2 separate regions of the Homo sapiens genome follow, and region 2 is linked to region 1. Evidence: fine-mapped expression QTL. Tissue or cell type: testis. Region 1 holds a variant in brackets; the other region holds the start of a gene. All regions are shown on one strand. Distances are from middle to middle.

Region 1 (8,000 bases):
TTGTGTATTTCTCACTTTAGGAAATAAAATATTTGCCAATTTGATAGAATTTTGACTTTAACGTTAATCGTATTTTTAGATATTGGTTAGCATATTTTATGTTAGGTTATTTTCATTTGATTTTATCTAGTTGTACGTAGAAGATACTGTCATCTTTTAGGACAAAGTATTGTAAAATTATCTGTTTTAGCCCATGTTCTGATGACCCACAGCTCTGTCACCTTTGAGCATCATCTCCCCATTCTAAGTTTTTTTCCCACTTAATTCCTAACCCTGCCTCTTTGAGGAAGCCCATTGACGGGGCAATTAAAACCTTCTCATTGCTCCTGAGACCAGAACGGCAAGATGTTTCCTTTCAGAAGCTGAGAGCCACAAGGAGGACAGCAGTGAGCATCTGCACAGAAACGAGCTCAGAGACGCCCGTGTTCAGTGGAGCACGCCGATGGGGTGGGCGCCCTGGCTCTAGACGCTCTCCTAACACACCTGTGCTTTGATGACAGTCTGCAGGAGCTGCCTGGTGAAGTACCTGGAGGAGAACAACACCTGCCCCACCTGCAGGATTGTGATCCACCAGAGCCACCCCCTGCAGTACATCGGGTGAGTGTGGGCCTTCCCAGGCCACAGTACGTGGGGTGAGTGCCCCTGGGCGTCTCTGTGTGTGGGCCTTCCCAGGCCATTAGCGCTGTACTCCCATCCTGCCTTGGCAGCAGCCTCTCCTGACCAAGGGCACCCCAGGAGCTGCACACGAAGAACCTGGGTCCAGCGCTCACCAGGCCATCCTGCCAGGCCTGCCCAGGCTGTGCCTGCACATACATTTCCATCAATACTTAGGTAGGCCGGGCGCAGGGGCTCATGCCTATAATCCCAGCACTTTGGGAGGCCGACACAGGCAGATCACCTGAGGTCAGGAGTTTGAGACCAGCCTGACCAACGTGGAGAAACCCCATCTCTACTAAAAGTACAAAATTAGCTGGGTATGGTGGTGCATGCCTATAATCCCATCTACTCAGGAGGCTGAGGCAGGAGAATCACTTGAACCCAGGAGGCCGAGGTTGCAGTAAGCGGAGATTGCGCCGTTGCACTCCAGCCTGGCGACAGAGCGAGACTCTGTCTCAAAGAGAAAGAAAAAATACTTAGTCAAGTTAAATTGTTGGAGAGCCCTCAAGACCAAGTTGAATCTCATGAGTTTTACGCAGAATTTGCTGAAGTTAAATTTGATGTGAGCCGGCCCTTGGATACCCCTTTCACCTTTCTGCCATGGAGCAGATGGTCCTGGGGCCCTGGCCCTGCTGCCCCTGACACATGGCCAAGGTCTTTCTCCCTGCGCTGTGCTCTTCTGCCCAGGGTCACAGCGAGCCTGGACTCACCCCTGGGCCAGCCACCATTTCTGGAGAAGGCAACTCTTGCCTGGACGTCAGCAGGAGGCCAAGGGGCCAGCCAGGTGGAGCGTGTGGTTCTCACACAGATTTGGGAGGTCGTTCAGATTTGGGGGGTTGCTCCAAAGGAAGGGAAATGCTCCCCGTACCATGAGGGTAGTAGAGATAATTCTGAAGACACATTTTGAAGGAGGAAAGGCAGATGTGTTTGTTTTTCCCTTTTATTATTATTATTTTTCTTAATTTTATTTATTTTTCTTGAGATGGAGTCTTGCTCTGTCGCCAGGCTGGAGTGCAATGGCGCCATCTCAGCTCACCGCAACCTCCACCTCCCGGGTTCAAGTGATTCTCCTGCCTCAGCCTCCCGAGTAGCTGGAATTACAGGCGCATGTCACCACGCCCAGCTAATTTTTGTATTTTTAGTAGAGATAGGGTTTCACCATGTTGGCCAGGCTGGTTTCAAACTCCTGATCTCAGGTCATCTGCCCGCCTCAGTCTCCCCAAATGCTAGGATTACAGGTGTGAGCCACCACACCCGGCCCTCACAGACTTTTCTTTACATTATTTGGAAACATTCTAGAAAAGCCTCTGTTCATTGGAAATCCCACAAAGACCAGGAGACCCCAGGAAGCACTTGGTGGGAGGGGCAGGGACAGTGTCCCCTGAGCGCATAGGATGCAGGGAACCCGGGGTGTCCGCAGGGACGGTGTCCCCTGAGCGCATAGGATGCAGGGAACCTGGGGTGTCCGCAGGGACGGTGTCCCCTGAGCGCACAGGATGCAGGGAACCTGGGGTGTCCGCAGGGACGGTGTCCCCTGAGCACACAGGATGCAGGGAACCCGTGGTGTCCACAGGGACGGTGTCTCCTGAGCGCACAGGATGCAGGGAACCCGGGGTGTCCGCAGGGACGGTGTCCCCTGAGCGCACGGGACGCGGGGAACCCGGGGTGTCCGCAGGGACGGTGTCCCCTGAGCGCACGGGACGCGGGAAACCTGGGGTGTCTGCAGGGACAGTGTCGCGGGGAACCTGGGGTGTCTGCAGGGGCGGTGTCCCCTGAGCGCACGGGACGCGGGGAACCTGGGGTGTCTGCAGGGACGGTGTCCCCTGAGCGCACGGGACGCGGGGAACCTGGGGTGTCTGCAGGGACGGTGTCCCCTGAGCGCACGGGACGCGGGGAACCTGGGGTGTCTGCAGGGACGGTGTCCCCTGAGCGCACGGGACGCGGGGAACCTGGGGTGTCTGCAGGGACGGTGTCCCCTGAGCGCACGGGACGCGGGGAACCTGGGGTGTCTGCAGGGACGGTGTCCCCTGAGCGCACGGGACGCGGGGAACCTGGGGTGTCTGCAGGGACGGTGTCCCCTGAGCGCACGGGACGTGGGGAATCTGGGGTGTCCGGCAGACAGAAGCACGGGTTCCCAGAAGAGCCTTCTCTGTCATTATTTGAAATGTTTGAAGCAGCCAGAGCCCAAGTTAAATGACGCGTTAATTCAGCTCATACATGGCTTTTGGTGACACATTTTTTCATGTGTAAACTAGAAGTAAAATTCCAACAAAGCTCCAGACTGGTGATTCTGAACTTTGATATTGTTAAATGGAAAGTGTACAAGAATTATAGAATTAACATTTCCAGCTAACTCCACCTTTCTGTTCTTTTGCCAGTCATGACAGAACCATGCAAGATATTGTTTACAAATTGGTACCAGGCCTCCAAGAAGGTGAGTGTCTGACTGTCTTGCTGATCCCTGAGGTCCCAGCCTGGCCTCTGCAGCCCCTGCTCTCCTGGAAGTTTGGTTCTCGGATGGGAGGCCCCTTTCCTTTTGGCCGAATCACCGTCTTCTCATCCCTGCTCTCAGCCCAACTTCATCTCCTTGGCTGGTCTCTTCTTTCGTCTAAGATGCGTAGACATCTTTTTACCCCTTATGTGTATTCATTCAGCAAGTATGGATCGCATGTTTAGCACATGGGACCCCCAGGGCTCAACGCAGCTCCTGCCCCTCCCAGGACCCTGCCTTCTTCCTGGGCCCCACCTCCTGTCCCAGGCCTGCCTCCCCTCATCCCACAGCGCCAGCTTCCCCACAACAGAGGAGCAGCACGTTGGCATAGCGGGTAGCTGGTGTTTCTAGAAAAACTTCACCATAAAGTCAAATTTCATTTAGAATTAAAAGAAATACCAAGTAGTACAAATACCCTGAAAGTGGAAATCGGTTGCTTGGGGATCGCTCAGCTGAAAGCTCCCCAGCTCCCGACACTCTCACGGTGGTGGCCCTCCGCTGGCGACCGGCAAGGAGGCCAAGGAGGGGCCAGGTCAGCGCCAGGTGGGCTGTCCTGGTATTCTGCTCATCAGACCTTTCAAAGGCAGATAGAGAAGCTGAGAATTCACTTGGGCTGGTTCTCACTGTATCTCAGAAGAGGGTTGGAATTCAAAACACAGCTGAATATGCCAGATCCGTAGAAACCGTATCTCGCCTTTAATGCGTGACCCAGAGAATCATACTGTTAGAGGCTTCTTCCCTACTCACAGAGTTCATTCATGCAGGAAGAATTTAGATTTCCTGAGTAAACGTAGATAGAAACAATTAGTCTTTTAATATCTGAAAGTTTTTTAGTCCTGAGAAAAGGCAAAGGATACATTCGAGTTAAATGCTGACACCTTAAGAAACGTTTGCACCGAGTGTTTCAGACGCGTAGCAGTGGGCGGGATCGGGGCGGGACCCCAAGTT[T/G]TGTGACCCCCGCCAGTGCTGACACTTTAAGAAACGTTTGTGGCCGGGTGCAGTGGCTCACGCCTGTAATCCCAGCACTTTGGGAGGCCGAGGCGGGTGGATCATCAGGTCAAGAGTTTGAGACCAGCCAGACCAACATAGTGAAACCCTGTCTCTACCAAAAATACAAAAAAAAAAAAAAAATTAGTCGGGCGTGGTGTCAGGTGCCTGTAATCCCAGCTACTCAGCAGGCTGAGGCAGGAGAATCGCTTGAACCCGGGAGGCAGAGGTTGCAGTGAGCTGAGATCGCGCCACTGCACTCCAGGCTGGGCGACAGAGCAAGACTCCGTCTCAAAAAAATAAATAAATAAATAAAGTGTGCACTGGAGCGTTTCAAACGCTTAGCAGTGGGCGGGATCGGGGCAGGAACCTCGAGTTTTGTGACCACCACCCCCCGCCAGCAGTTTCTAGGCGTGGCCGTCCTTGCTGCACCTGCTGCTCCCTCAGCCTCACCCCGTGGCCTTTGATCTGTAAAGGCTGCAGTACGTATCCCCAAAAGATAAGGGTTCTTCTTAAAGCTCATAACCACAATACCTTGATAATGTTTAGGAAAATAGTAGAGATTCCTTAATACCAAATAGCCACTCAGTGCTGACATTTCTAGTTGTCTCATAAATGCGGTGCTTTTTGGTTGTTGTTTATTTCTTTATTTATTTTGAGACCTGGTCTCTGCTGCCCAGGCTGGAGTTCAGTGGTGCTATCACAGCTCACTGTAGCCTCAACCTCCCGGGCTCCAGTGATTCTCCCACCTCAGCCTGCCAGGTAGCTGGAACTACAGGCAAGCACCTCCATCCTGGCTAATTTTTTGTAGGGATAGGGTTTTGCTGTGTTGCCCAGGCTGGTCTTGAACTCCTGGGCTCAAGCAGTCCTCCTGCCTTGGCCTCCCAAAGTGCTGGGATTACAGGTGTGAGCCCCCACACCCAGCCTGTTTTTGTTTATTCCAATCAGGATCCAGAGAATACCACTGACTCACGGGCCTCCTTCTGGTTCCTGCCTCTGCCTTCCCATTGTCCTGGGTTGTCCTGCGGCAGTGGACCTGGGTGCGTTCCACCCGTGTTTTTGGGAAGCCCGCTTCTGGGCATCCATCAGGGCAGGTGTCGTCCATGTGCTGAGCCGGGTGGCACTGAGATCTGCATGCCACCTCCGTTCCATCGCTCGTCTCCACGTGTTAGTTGGAGTGTGCGTCCAGCCTGGAGCAGGTTGTATGTTCTCGTCCACCTCAGCACGCTCTTGTCCGGTGTGGACGCTGCCAACTCCACTCTACGTTGAAGAAGTCGAGAGGCAAGAGGTTCCGGAGTGCTCCAGATTGACACCCCCAGGGCACGGTGGCCCCGAGCCGCCTCCCTGACCAGCTCCTGTCTCTGGCCACCATATTTTCCGTTGAGTCAATATTCTTTTTCTTGTTGTTTCTCAAGCTTTCAGTCATTTGTGGCTCTTTAGCAGGAGGATTCTAACTTTAAAACTATTAGCAGTGCACCTATTTTCTTGATGGAGGCTACTTGCAATTTGTTTAGTTTTATCTGTGGTGCAGACAATTGCAAACCTCATTTCTCCGACCAGAGGCCTCTTCCTGAAACGCGCGTTAGCTGCGAGGATGCAGTGGTGAGGCGAGGTGTCAGCCCTTGAGGGTCCAGGTGTCTGTTTTGGAGGAGACGCCAACACGGTCCTGCCCCTCCCACCTGGACTCCGGGCAGGCCCTCAACGCTGTCCCCGCACCCCCACATGGTGGGGGCTTGCTGGAAGAGAGTTCCCTGCTAGATCAGAGGTGGGGTTAGGTTTTTAGTGGTTTGTTGTTTCTTTTTGTTTTTATAAATTATTTTAGAAACCTGTCTTCGTAGAGGCAACATGTTTAAAACATTTATCAAAGTGTCCATTCTCAGTCTCAGCCCACTCTGGGCTCTTTCACTCGGTGGGCGTGTCATGGTCTTTGGTGTGCCAGGCTCCTGTCCGTTCCTGGTGAGGGCTGTGGGGCTCACGCACTCACCAGTCCTCTTTCCATGGATCCTGAACATGCCTGTCACCTCTTGCTTTAGAAACGTGGGGGCCGGACACAGTGTCTCATGCCTGTAACCCTAGCACTGTGGGAGGCCGAGGCAGGAGGATCCCATGAGCTAAGAATGTTTCTTTACATTTTTAAATAGTTGGAAAAAATCAAAAGCAGCGTATTTTATGATGTGATAATTTAAGAATTGAAATTTCATGGTGCGTAGCCTGGTTGGAACCAGCCCCACTGGCTCAGCTGTGGTCGCCTTCACCCGTAAGCCCGTCCGTGGTGCAGCTGAGTGTGTGCCAGGAGTGTGCTGCCTGCCTGCCGGTGGCTTTGGGCAGCCCTCTGCACCGTGGCTGGAACTCATCGTCACTGCATTGGGACGTTTTCATGACGACGTCAGAACGAGGAAAGGAGAAAAGGGGACTTTCAGGGCTGCACTTCGAAGCCGCAGTGAACTCTGGATTATTTTGTTGTTGAACTGTCATTGTTGATGGCAAAGCACCGACTTTCTCATCCGTCATACTGTAGCTATGCTGAGAGCAAACAGCCGACGATGGAGTCACTGACTCAACACCAGCAATATCCCCACTCACAGGAAAGCAGTATTTAGACACCAGCAATATTCCCTACTCACAGGAAAGCAGTGTTTACAAAATGCTGAAAATTTAAAATGGAATGTCTCATCACAGCAGAATTTCTTCTCAGAAGTGAAAATGAAGATATGGCTGTAGTCAGAATAAGCTTCCAATTGGCTGATTCGTTAGCGTTATGCCAACAGTGAGCTCCTCAGATCAGGCTGGACTGCCGCAGCTCAAGAGCAATGTCCAGAGACAGTGAGCTCTTATTTATTTATTTATTCAATCATTTTTGAGACGGAGTTTTGCTCTTGTTGCCCAGGCTGAGTGCAGTGGCACGATCTCAGCTCACTGCAACCTCCGCCTCCCAGGTTCACACAGTTGTCCTGTCTCAGCCTCCTGAGTAGCTGGGATTACAGGCAGGTGCCACCATGCCTGGCTAATTTTTTGTATTTTTAGTAGAGACGGGGGTTTCACCATGTTGGCCAGGCTGGTCTCGAACTCCTGACCTCATGATCCGCCCGCCTCAGCCTCCCACAGTGCTGGGATGACAGGTGTGAGCCACCGCGCCCGGCCCCAATAAATGTTTCAGTGCCTGTATACACCTGACACTGAGTGCTGCTATTTTTAATCCTTCTTTATTCTTACAGGTGAAAATTAAAGAAATGGGAACTAGAGCCAAGGGTCAGGGTCTGAAGCTGAGTTGCTTTCCACTGTGTCCGTGGGGCTCTCTCCTTTGCACGGACCTATGTGGCCTGTTGTTCCCGTCACGGCTCTTCTGCAGACTGATGGGAACAGCCTCCTGCTGTCAGCCCCTGTCTTGCAGGCCTCCATTCCAGCTGCTGGGATGTGATTATTTAAGGGAAACATTTTCTTTCAAGCTGCTCTCAGATTCTCCAGGCTAATCTTTCAGCATTTCCCTTGTGAGGCTCCAGCACTCCATCCACCTGCGGCCGGCCCCACCTATCCCCTTGGCTCTCAGGGTCCCCTCCTCTCTCTGCCCAGGCTCTCGGGGTCCCCTCCTCTCTCTCTCCCCAGGCTCTCGGGGTCCCCTCCTCTCTCTGCCCAGGCTCTCAGGGTCCCCTCCTCTCTCCCCAGGCTCTCGGGGTCCCCTCCTCTCTCTGCCCAGGCTCACGGGGCATCCTCCTCTCTGTCCAAGCTCGTTGCCTCACGCGGGCATTGGTCCCTGCACGGTTGGTGTTTGTGAGGCAGCTGTGTAGGTTGGGGTATGCCCAGAGCGTTTCCCTGGCCTGGCCGAGCTCATGGTATGTAGGGAGGAAATCGTGGATAAAAAGTTTGG
Region 2 (9,325 bases), 87 kb after region 1:
GGAGAGCCAGAGGGACCTCTGTCTGGGACAGGGTGGACACCCAACCTTGCCCATGGTGTAAGTCTCAGGGGTGGACACTGGGAATCAGGGCAGGATTGCCCAGATCCCAGTTGCCTCCATGGCCCTGCCTGAGGTCCCAGATGGTGAGTGCTGAGCCCCACTTTGGTGCCGGGAAGGAGGAAGGAGGTGCCCCCTCCATCCCCGTGGAGGGCTGGGGGAGATGCTGGTGTTGGCTGCATTGTGGCTCAGGGCATCCCTGGCCTGGACTCCTGGCTCTGGTGGTCTCTGCTCACAGAGGGAGATTCTTTCCCAACTGCACCCCTCACCAGCCTCACGTGAACCCCCAAGGTGGACACCCCTCACCAGCCTCACGTGAACCCCCAAGGTGGACACCCCTCACCAGCCTCGCGTGAACCCCCAAGGTGGACACCGGTGGCCCCCACAAGCCCCTTGGGTTGTTCCTGCCGAGAACTCACAGCCCAGCCCCACGGGGGCGCGGAGGGGCTCTCCCACACGGTGGAACCCTGCACTTCCTGCCTGGGCCGTCCACGAGACACTTCTCGTCCACCCCGGCTTGGATGACCACAATCCTCCCCCTCACGCCAAACCCAGGACCGCACCCCTACGGTGTGTTCTCCCCAGATGTTCACCTGCTTCCCTCCCCATGTAGGACTGGACACAGAACCCAACAGCGTACCACTCTCCGGGGACAAGGACAGCTTCTCCACTGAACCCAGGCCAGGCTGTCGCCCCCCAGGTTGGGCCTGGCTGGGTGAGGGGCATTCACTGCCGGACACTGTCCATCGTGACTGAACCACCGGAGTCACTGGACCTGCCCGCTAGACCTCCCCACACGTGGCAGAGCCGAGCATGGGTGAGTCCTGCCTTGGGCTCTGTCGCTGGGGCAGTCAGAGGCTCTCCTGAGTGTCCGGCTGCCTCCCACTCTGCACCCCAGCCTCTCCGCACATGCATCCTCCAAGCCGTGTCCCACCTGAAGCCCCGGCCCGCCTGCCCCACACATTCCCGAGGACCTGAGCGTGTTTAAACAGGGCGTGTGTCACATCAAGGCGGAGGATGGGAGAGCGGGTGGCTGCTCGCTTCTGCCACATTTAGCCCCATGAGGGTCTGCAGTGACCACGGCACCCACACGTGCCACGTTCCTCCACGCTGTCCACAGAGCTCCCAGGCCGTGTTTGCAACTTTCTGGCCTGAGGAAACCAGTTTCTTTAAATTACTCCCTTGAGGACCCTGGATCCGGACCCACGTGTTGTGGGGGGAGGCCCGGCCCCAGTTCAAGGCCACTTTTGCTGCAGAGGAGCCTCCCGCTCCCCCACGAGCGATCACCCCGGCAGCCACCATGCTCCCTTCCCTTGGTGGCCCCAACAGGGGCCCCTCCTTGAGACCCAGCGTTGGGTCAGATGAGCAGGCCCTGGGCCACTCACTCCTCAGCAAGACTCACACCTGCGGCCCAGCCTGCCGCGGACAGCCCCCGAATGGTCTTGATTTAACCAGGCCTGTCCCCCTGCCCAGAGCCCTGGGCAGGTCCTCACCTCTTCCTCCTCTCTGCTGCACCCTCTGACGGGCGTGCACGTGTGCATGTGCCATGCTGCCTGCGCTCCTGGCCCTGACTCCTCTTAGCAGTTCATTTCTAATGCGTCTCTCTCCCCACTGTCTCTCCCTCTGTCTCTGTCTCTCCCTCTGTCTCTGTCTCTCCCTCTCACCACTGTCTCTCCCTCTGTTTCTGATTCTCCGTCTCTCCCCATCTCTGTCTCTCCCTCTGTCTCTGTCTCCATCTCTATCTCTCTAACTCTCTCTGTCTCTCTCTCTCCTTCTGCCTCCACCTCTCCCTCTGCCTCTCTCTGCCCTCTTCCTTTGTCTGTCTGTCTCTCTGTATCCCTCTGTCTCTCCCTCTGCTCCCATCTCTCCCTGTCTCTGTTTCTCCCTGTCTCTGTCTCCCTCTGTCTCTGTGTCTCCCTCTATCTCTGTCTCCGTCTCTCCCTCTTTCTCTCTCTCCCCTCTGCCTCTGTCTCTGACGTGCCGTCTCTGTTTTCACCTGTCTGTCCCTGTGCGTGCTGAATAACACATTCTTGTCTTTTTCTCTGTCTGTTTCTGGGCTGTCATTTTCTTTCTCCAGCTCCCCCTCCCCGACCCTGTTTCTGGGTTCGCCTTTCTTTGAACGGCTTCCTGGGTGCCTCCTGCTCCCTCTCCTGCCAGCTTCTTTGTGTCCGGGGCTTGGTCTGTTTCTCAATAGTTCTCTTGGGGTCTCTGCCAAGCTCTGTCGTGCTGTCTGGAGGTTCCCCCATTTCCCATCTCTGTCTTGCTCTGTCTCACTCACACGCATCCTGAGACAGCAACAATGAGGCTCGCCGGGTGAGGGACAGAGGCGCAGAGGCAGAAAACAAGGTCTCGACTGGAAGCCCCCCACCAGCTCCCGCCCTCAGCAGCTCTGGCTCCGAGCCTCAACGTGCTCTGCAAAGCCAATGTGGGGTGCTCTGGGAAGCACTCAGCGTGGAGCCCCCCCAGGGTCTGCTGGCTGCCCCCGCTCAGCTCCACCACGCTGAGCGACGCCTGCCCGGTTGCTGCTGCTGGAGAAACTTTGGGCTGCCATGAAACAAAAAGGGAATTCAGGCTGGTAATTACCCAGCTAATTTCAGTCATGTAGACAGCCAAATAAGATATTTCAGTTTCTTACAAGCCCACCTCAGGGCCTGAATTAGCCAACTAATTAATTATCCGTAACAGCCTGGGACTCCCTGGGTGGAACGTGCGTCCCTCCCAGCGCAGATGCAGGCTTGTCCCTGAATCACAGCCCGGTGACGCAGCCATTATAATTAGACTCAACCTGACTCTTACCCTTGACCACGAAATCTCAGGGATGTGGCCCCAGGACAGGCTCAATATCTTTTCATTTAATTTGTGTTGAGTGGAAGCACAGCCACCCTCCGGGAGACAGCCAGGCAGGCAGCTCCTGCCCTGGGGGAAGCGGCGCCTGCCCTCTGTACACCCTTGTCCCTGGCCCCTCGAACCCGGCCAGCTCCCCCACTGCAGAAATGCTCCCAGGAGGCCTGACTCACTCCAAGGTGTGAATGGCATCAGGTGAGGGTGCTCCCCCGTGGAGGCCACCCAAGCAAGACGTCTCTAGTGGTAGAATCGGGCACCGGCCACAGGTTCCCCTCACAGGAGTTCTGGGCACTGGTGCTGGGGGAACACAGGATGGACGGCTCTGGGCAAAACTGAGACTCGCCACGACAGCCCCGAGGCCTGAGTTGACCCATCAGCTCTGCCGGGACACGTCTGTACCAGCATGGCCCAGGCCCTGCCCACCTCCTGGTCTAGGAACCCAGCCACTGCTCTTGACATGGTCTCTGGCCACAATGACAGCCTTGGGTCAAGTGGGGACGAGGTTCCTTTCAAATAGCAGACAGCAGGTTGGAAGGGGGCCTGGCCCCACCCCAGTACACACAAAAAAGGCTGCACGTCCCGCCTGGGAGGCAGTCGAGACACACAAGCTGTTTCGGGCCTTTTCCTTCGCTCCCGTAACCAGCAAGCCCTGGTCCCTGAGGATGGCGCTGCCTCACCCAAGTGAAACCCACAGGGTCCTCGCCAGATGCACAGGCCAGCTCTGTCCCCACGCCTGTCCCTGAGGCTGCCACCTGCATCCTGCTCTCCCACCGCTTGGCTCTCCTCATCTGGAAGGAAGCCCCCTTGGGGGCTGCCCAGCCTGGCCAGTTAGAATTGGCCCTGTAAAGCCTACGCCAGAGTGTGCACCCTCCCCCAGGACGTGCATCAGCATGGTCCATGGGCTCTGCCCCGACCACAGCAGTGGGGCAGAGTGAGCTTACAGGGCAGCCCCTGTCCCGCCAGGAACACCAGTTCTGGCTCGGGGCCTCGAAAAGGGCCGGGCTGGGGGCGCTGCTGGGCACGGTCCTTGCTCCTCTGCCCCAGGCTCCTGTGCAGGGCTGCGTGGGTGGCCGTGTGGCTGCAGGGGCGCTGCTGCGGTGGGCCAGATGAGGAGCAGCTGCTGTGGTGGTCTCTCCATGTCCCCTCAGCCCCTCCCCACCCCACCTCCCGCTTCCTACCTCCTAGAGCCTGCTTCATCACAAACTCCATGGCGATTGCTCTGCTTCCACAGTGGCTCCTCCAGGGGTCAGAACTCACACGCAAGTATGGCCGGGAGCGAGTGTTCTTCCTGGGGGAGAGTGAAGTGGTCACAGGTCACCCTAAGCAGGCCCCTGCCTGGCCTTCCCCAGAGACCATCATTCCTTACCCGCAATACCTTGTGGGCTGGACCCTCCCCCACCTGGAGCGGCTGCCTGGGAAGTCCTTCGTGAGGGGCTTCTGTCCCCACACCCAAACCAGGACCCCAGAGGACCTGAAAATGGTCTCCCCAGCTCCTGGGGTGTCTGAAGCCTCTGCAGGGAGGGCTGCTGATGGCTTAGGGGGCATCGCTCAGAGGCGCCTGGCGCCAGGCTGCGGAAGCAGGGGCGGGGCCCAGGGGGCGTTTGAAGGTGACTGCTCCGCTCTGCAGCTCAGTGTCTGGAGCGGCGCCTCCGCGGTGGTCCCGAGCCCAGGGCCGTGGAGAAGGGTTGGGGGTGGGTCTTTGAGCGGGTACCCTTCAGGGCGGGCTCCTGTGGCTTCTGACCAGGGAGGCTTGGGTGACCCTATCCCTGACGGCACTGCAGTCAGTGTGCCCCCCACATGGCCCGCGTAGAAGAGATCGGGGTTGGGGAGAAACTTCAGGGGGCTCAGCCTTCAGGAAACACGTGGGGACGGGGACAGAGCACCCCCGCCCCGGGGGCGTGCATGGGGTGGGGTGGGGCGCTCTGGTCCCCTCTTGGGAAGCCGCTTTCTGAAATCACAGCAGCCGCAGTGAGCCCCCCGGTTTTGCGGGGTCTCTCCTATCGGGGAACCCCAGGTCCCTGGAGAGACACTGTTTGACGGTTCACCCCTCGCCCTCCGCAGAGGAAGGAGACTCGCGCGGGGACTGGGAGGGCGGCGGGCGGGGAGCGCCCCTCGGAGGCTTTGCCGCAGCGCCGATTCTCCTCCAAACTTCTCCCCTGGCTCCCGCGGCGCGGGGAAGGAGGGCACGGCCGGGCCCCGCAGACCCGCAGGGCTCCGGCCCCGCCGCACCCGCACCCCTCGGCTTTGCGGGCGGGCGAGCGGCCCTCAGGCGGGAGCGCGCCAGGAGAGGAAAGAAAGAGGGCGAGGGAGGAGAGGGGGAGCCTCGAGACAGGAAGAAGCGAGGAGGAGGCCGGGCGCGGGCCGGGACCGCGGGGGCCGCTTCAGCACCGCGGCAGTGGACAGCGCCCGCCCCGGACCCCGCGCGCGCGGAGCCCGGGAGAGAAACGGGGGCTGCGGGGAGAAGCCGGGGTCGGGGGGAGAAACGGGGGCCGGAGGGAGAGGCCGGAGCCGGGGGGAGAAGCCGGAGCCGGGGAGGAGAGACCCGGGGAGCGGAGGCCGGGGGGAGGAGCTGGGCGAAGCCGGGGCCGCGGGGAGAAGGGGGGCCGGGAAGGAGAAACCGGGGCCGGCGGGAGAAGCGGGGAGAAGCGGGGGCCGGGGAGGAGACGCCGGGGCCGGGAGGGGAGACCCGGGGAGCGGAGGCCGGGCGCGCGCTGCGCTCGGGGCGCGGTTACCTTCCCGGGGCGCGGGCGGTCAGCGGCGGGGCGCGCTCGGGCCGGCTGGGTCCATGTGGCGCCCGGTGAGCTGCGGCGGCGGCTGAAGGGCACCGCGAGGAGGGCGCGTCACTCGCAGGCGCTCCCCGCCCCCCGCCCGCGTCCGAGCGTGACGAGCACGGGGAGGGGAGCGCCGAGGGGCGGGGCCGCGGGCGCCGGGCGGGGGCGGGGGTGGACCCGGGGGCGGGGGCGGAGGCGGACCCGGGGGCGGGGGGCGGGGGGTGGACCCGGGGCGGGGGCGGGGGGTGGACCCGGGGGCGGGGGCGGGGGGCGGGGGCGGGGGGCGGACCCGGGGCGGGGGCGGGGGGTGGACCCGGGGCGGGGGCGGGGGTGGACCCGGGGGCGGGGGCGGGGGGCGGGGGCGGGGGCGGGGGGTGGACCCGGGGCGGGGGCGGGGGTGGACCCGGGGGCGGGGGCGGGGGTGGACCCGAGTGACGCGCCCCCGCCTCCCTCCAACCCGGCCCGGGCTCGACCTTCCCCCGGCGGGCGCCTGCGACCCCCGCCCGCCCCTGATCTGGGCGCCCCCGGCTCTGCCCCCCCGCCCCCAGCCCGACGGTGCGGGCCTGCTCCCTACAGGGTCCGCGCGGGGCCGGTGGGTGCAAAACCCTCGGGCGGAGAAGTCGCTGCCTCCCGAGCGGAGGGGCCAGGGGTTGGGAGTCGCTGCCGCCCCCATTCTCCGGTGACCGTGTCCCTGAGCGCCGCCCGCCGCCCCGACCCCTCTGCCCCGACCTCCCCGTATCGCAGGGCGGGAGAAGGGGGCCCCCAGACCCCTGAAAACCCACGCAAGCCCCTCGCAGCCAGAGACCCGCAGGCCGGCCCGGGCTCACTTTCGGTGTAACGGAGTCGCTGTTTCCTTTACCGGGACGAAGGCCAGAGACCCCACCGCTCCCTCCCCTGGCCCCCGGGATTTCCTCTGCAGCGGACGCGGCACTGCGGGAGAGCGGGGTCGCCGCAAGGTCGGCCCTGCGGTTCGCGCTGTGCAGTGTCGGGAGCCAGGCGGCGGGAGGGATGGGGCGCACCGCGACCCTAGAGCTGCCCTGTGCTCCTGGCGGGGTGGGGGTGGGGAGGGGGGAGGGGGGCCGCTGCCGGTGGCCGCCGCACTAACTTGTCACTGTCCCCTCCCTGCTGAGTCCTGGGGACTCCCCTGGCGCAGGGAAGATGCGGCCCCTCCCCCGCCCTCAGCCCCATCCCCTCCGGTGCCCCGTGTTTAGCCTGAGCTCAGGAGGACTCAGAGGCCTGGACTCCCAGCCTTGGCCCCAGCGCCTCTGCCCCCGTCCCCACTCTTCTGCTGACTTGGCAGGGGACCCTTCGCAGAGGAAGGGAGCGCTGGGGGAGAGGGAAGGGTGAAGGCACCAGGGCCAAGCCCATGGGGGCTCCCTGAGACAGCCATGAGGGTCCCGTGGGCCTGGGGGTTCACAGGCAACCTCCCAGAGGGGGACCCATGCCCTAGGATTGGGGTCTCTTCAGCCTCCCTGGCTGGAAGCCATGGGCACCCCCAGCACCGTCCCTTCCTCTCTCCCGGGATCTGAGCCAAGTGGGCTCAGAACGTTGGGCCCAGGGACAGGAGGCAGGACACATGCCTGGGGGCCCGGCCTGAGCCCCAGCCTGCTCTGCTCCATCTGCTCCTCTAGTCTCCTCAGGACCTGGGAGGGGACAGCAAGGGTGAGATGTTCGGGTCCAAGAAAGAGGTCACTTCTCGGCCCTGGTGCTTTCTCTCTCCATCCCTAACTGGGTGGATAACCCAACAGCTAACCCGGACAGTAACCCCAGAGAGGACCCCAGGGGTGACCCCCTGAGCCCAGAGCCAGGCTCATGACTGACCCTGCCACCTCCACAAGCTGCATGCAAGGGATATGCTGGTGCCTTTGGGACAGTCTGCACAGGAGTGCAGGGAGGTGCCCGTTCTTCCGAGCAGAAGCACTGGACTCCTAGGCTGACCCCTCCCCGTTCTACAACCCAGGCCAGCCTGAGCTCCAAGCACACCTGGAGCTGGGGCCTGGGGCACAGAGGACAGAGACCCTCTGCCAGCCCTCACGTTCTGCCCTGTCTTCCTCTGCCTCTCTCTCTGTCTCTTTCTCCGTCGCTGTATCTCTCTGTCACTGTGTCTTTCTGCCCGTCTCTCTGTCTCTATCTTTCTGTCTCTGTCTTTCTCTGTCACTGTATCTGTCTCTGTGTCTTTTTGTCTCTCTGTCTCTTTCTATCTCTGTCTCTGTCTTTCTGTCTTTTCTTTCTCTGTCGCTGTATCTCTCTGTCTCTGTGTCTGTCTCTGTCTCTCTGTGTCCGTCTCTCTCTGTCTCTGCCTGTCCCTGTTGTTACTTGTTACATCCAGCCACACATGCAGTGACTGCTTCTCAGCTCTCACACTTGTCTAGGCCCTAACCTGGGGGTGGGGGGGCCCAGCCACAACTTGGGGGAAATAGACAAGGTTGGTGACAGCCCCAGGTCAGAGTGACAAGTGGCCTAGGGAAGGGAAAGTGGGCATCTGCTGGAGGAGTTGAGGGTGGTGCCCACTCAGGGTGTGTGAGCTGGGCCAGGGGAAGGGAAAGTGGGCATCTGCTGGAGGGCTTCAGGGTGGTGCCCACTCAGGGTGTGTGAGCCAGGCCAGGGCTGCCCAGCTGGGATGGGAGTCACAGGCTGCTGGCCAGGAGCCACCCAGGCTCCGTTCCAGTGGCAGAAGGTGGTGACGCGGCAAAAGGCCTCTGCCAACCCCCACGGGCCACTTGGCCACACCAGGGCAGGTGCGGTTGGCCCTTCGAGTGCCCAGAGGAGGCCCTGAGCCCTGGAGAAGAAGCCCCGCAGACCTCCAGCCGGCTGGAAAGGGGCAGGAGCTGAGTGAGAAAGGGGCCAGCAGGTTGAAGGCCAGGTTGAAGATCCAGGCAGGGAAAACATTTTGCAGGCCGGGGAAGAGTTGGAGGCCACCCCGTCCAGGCGGATGTTGGGAGAAGGAGGAGGTGGGGTGTGGAGCAAGTCCGGGAGGAGCAGGATGGAGCTCCAACGAGGGCTCCCCCAGAGGTCAGCTTGGAGAAGTGTGAGTGCTTGGCTGGGCCGAGCCCTGGCTGTGGGGCCTGTGCCAGCCGGTTGGACATGGATGGTACCCCCGGCCCAGCCAGCCCTCTGCTCCTCAGATGCTCCATCCCCAGCCCCAGTGAGGCCAGGGACCCCAGGAGCACAAAGCAGGACTGTGTGAGGACCATGTGGCACTGGGTTTGAGACCCTGCGGGGTCACTCCAGACAGCAGGGAAAGGAGGCAGCTGCCCTGCTGCAACCTCCAGCTCTAGCCTCTCTGGAAGCCCCTGCCAAGGCCTCCACTGCCACCCTGCTCCCATCTTCTGGGTCCCATCTGCCCATAGCCCTCCTGGGTGCCAGGCATCCTCCTTGCCTTGGGCCAGGAAAGGGTCTGGGAAGCACTGTCAGGGTTTCCTGGGGTTGGCCTTCAGTCCTGGCGTGGGGTGTGGCCAGGGGGCCATGTCCCCCATGGGCCCAGCAGGAGGGCAGCGCTCTGCCACACCGCATGTGTGGATCCGGCCCACAGCACCCACCCAGAACCTTCAAACACAAACTTAATAGTTACATGTGCTGAGTGATTCAGTCTGAGTGCCGACACCATCCACGCTGTCATTTTCCTGCTGGATTTTGATATTCCAAAAGTAACA

The links. PIP is the estimated chance that this variant, and not a neighbour inherited with it, causes the effect.
Region 2: it holds the start of CPLX1, and the variant in region 1 is fine-mapped to the expression of CPLX1 in testis (GTEx, PIP 0.93).

Annotation. Positions count from the first base shown.
Region 1 is chr4:734,431-742,430 of GRCh38, forward strand. It overlaps PCGF3 (polycomb group ring finger 3), which reads left to right. Exons shown (of 11, transcript NM_006315.7): 5 at 501-597; 6 at 3,036-3,091. It overlaps LOC107986246 (a long non-coding RNA gene), which reads left to right and starts at 4,997. Exons shown (of 2, transcript XR_001741543.2): 1 at 4,997-5,514; 2 at 6,277-7,309. The variant T/G (reference allele first, on the strand shown) is at 4,097.
Region 2 is chr4:820,413-829,737 of GRCh38, forward strand. It overlaps CPLX1 (complexin 1), which reads right to left and starts at 5,717. Exons shown (of 4, transcript NM_006651.4): 1 at 5,634-5,717; 2 at 4,080-4,189. The coding sequence starts at 4,110. RefSeq lists a silencer at 5,687-5,736.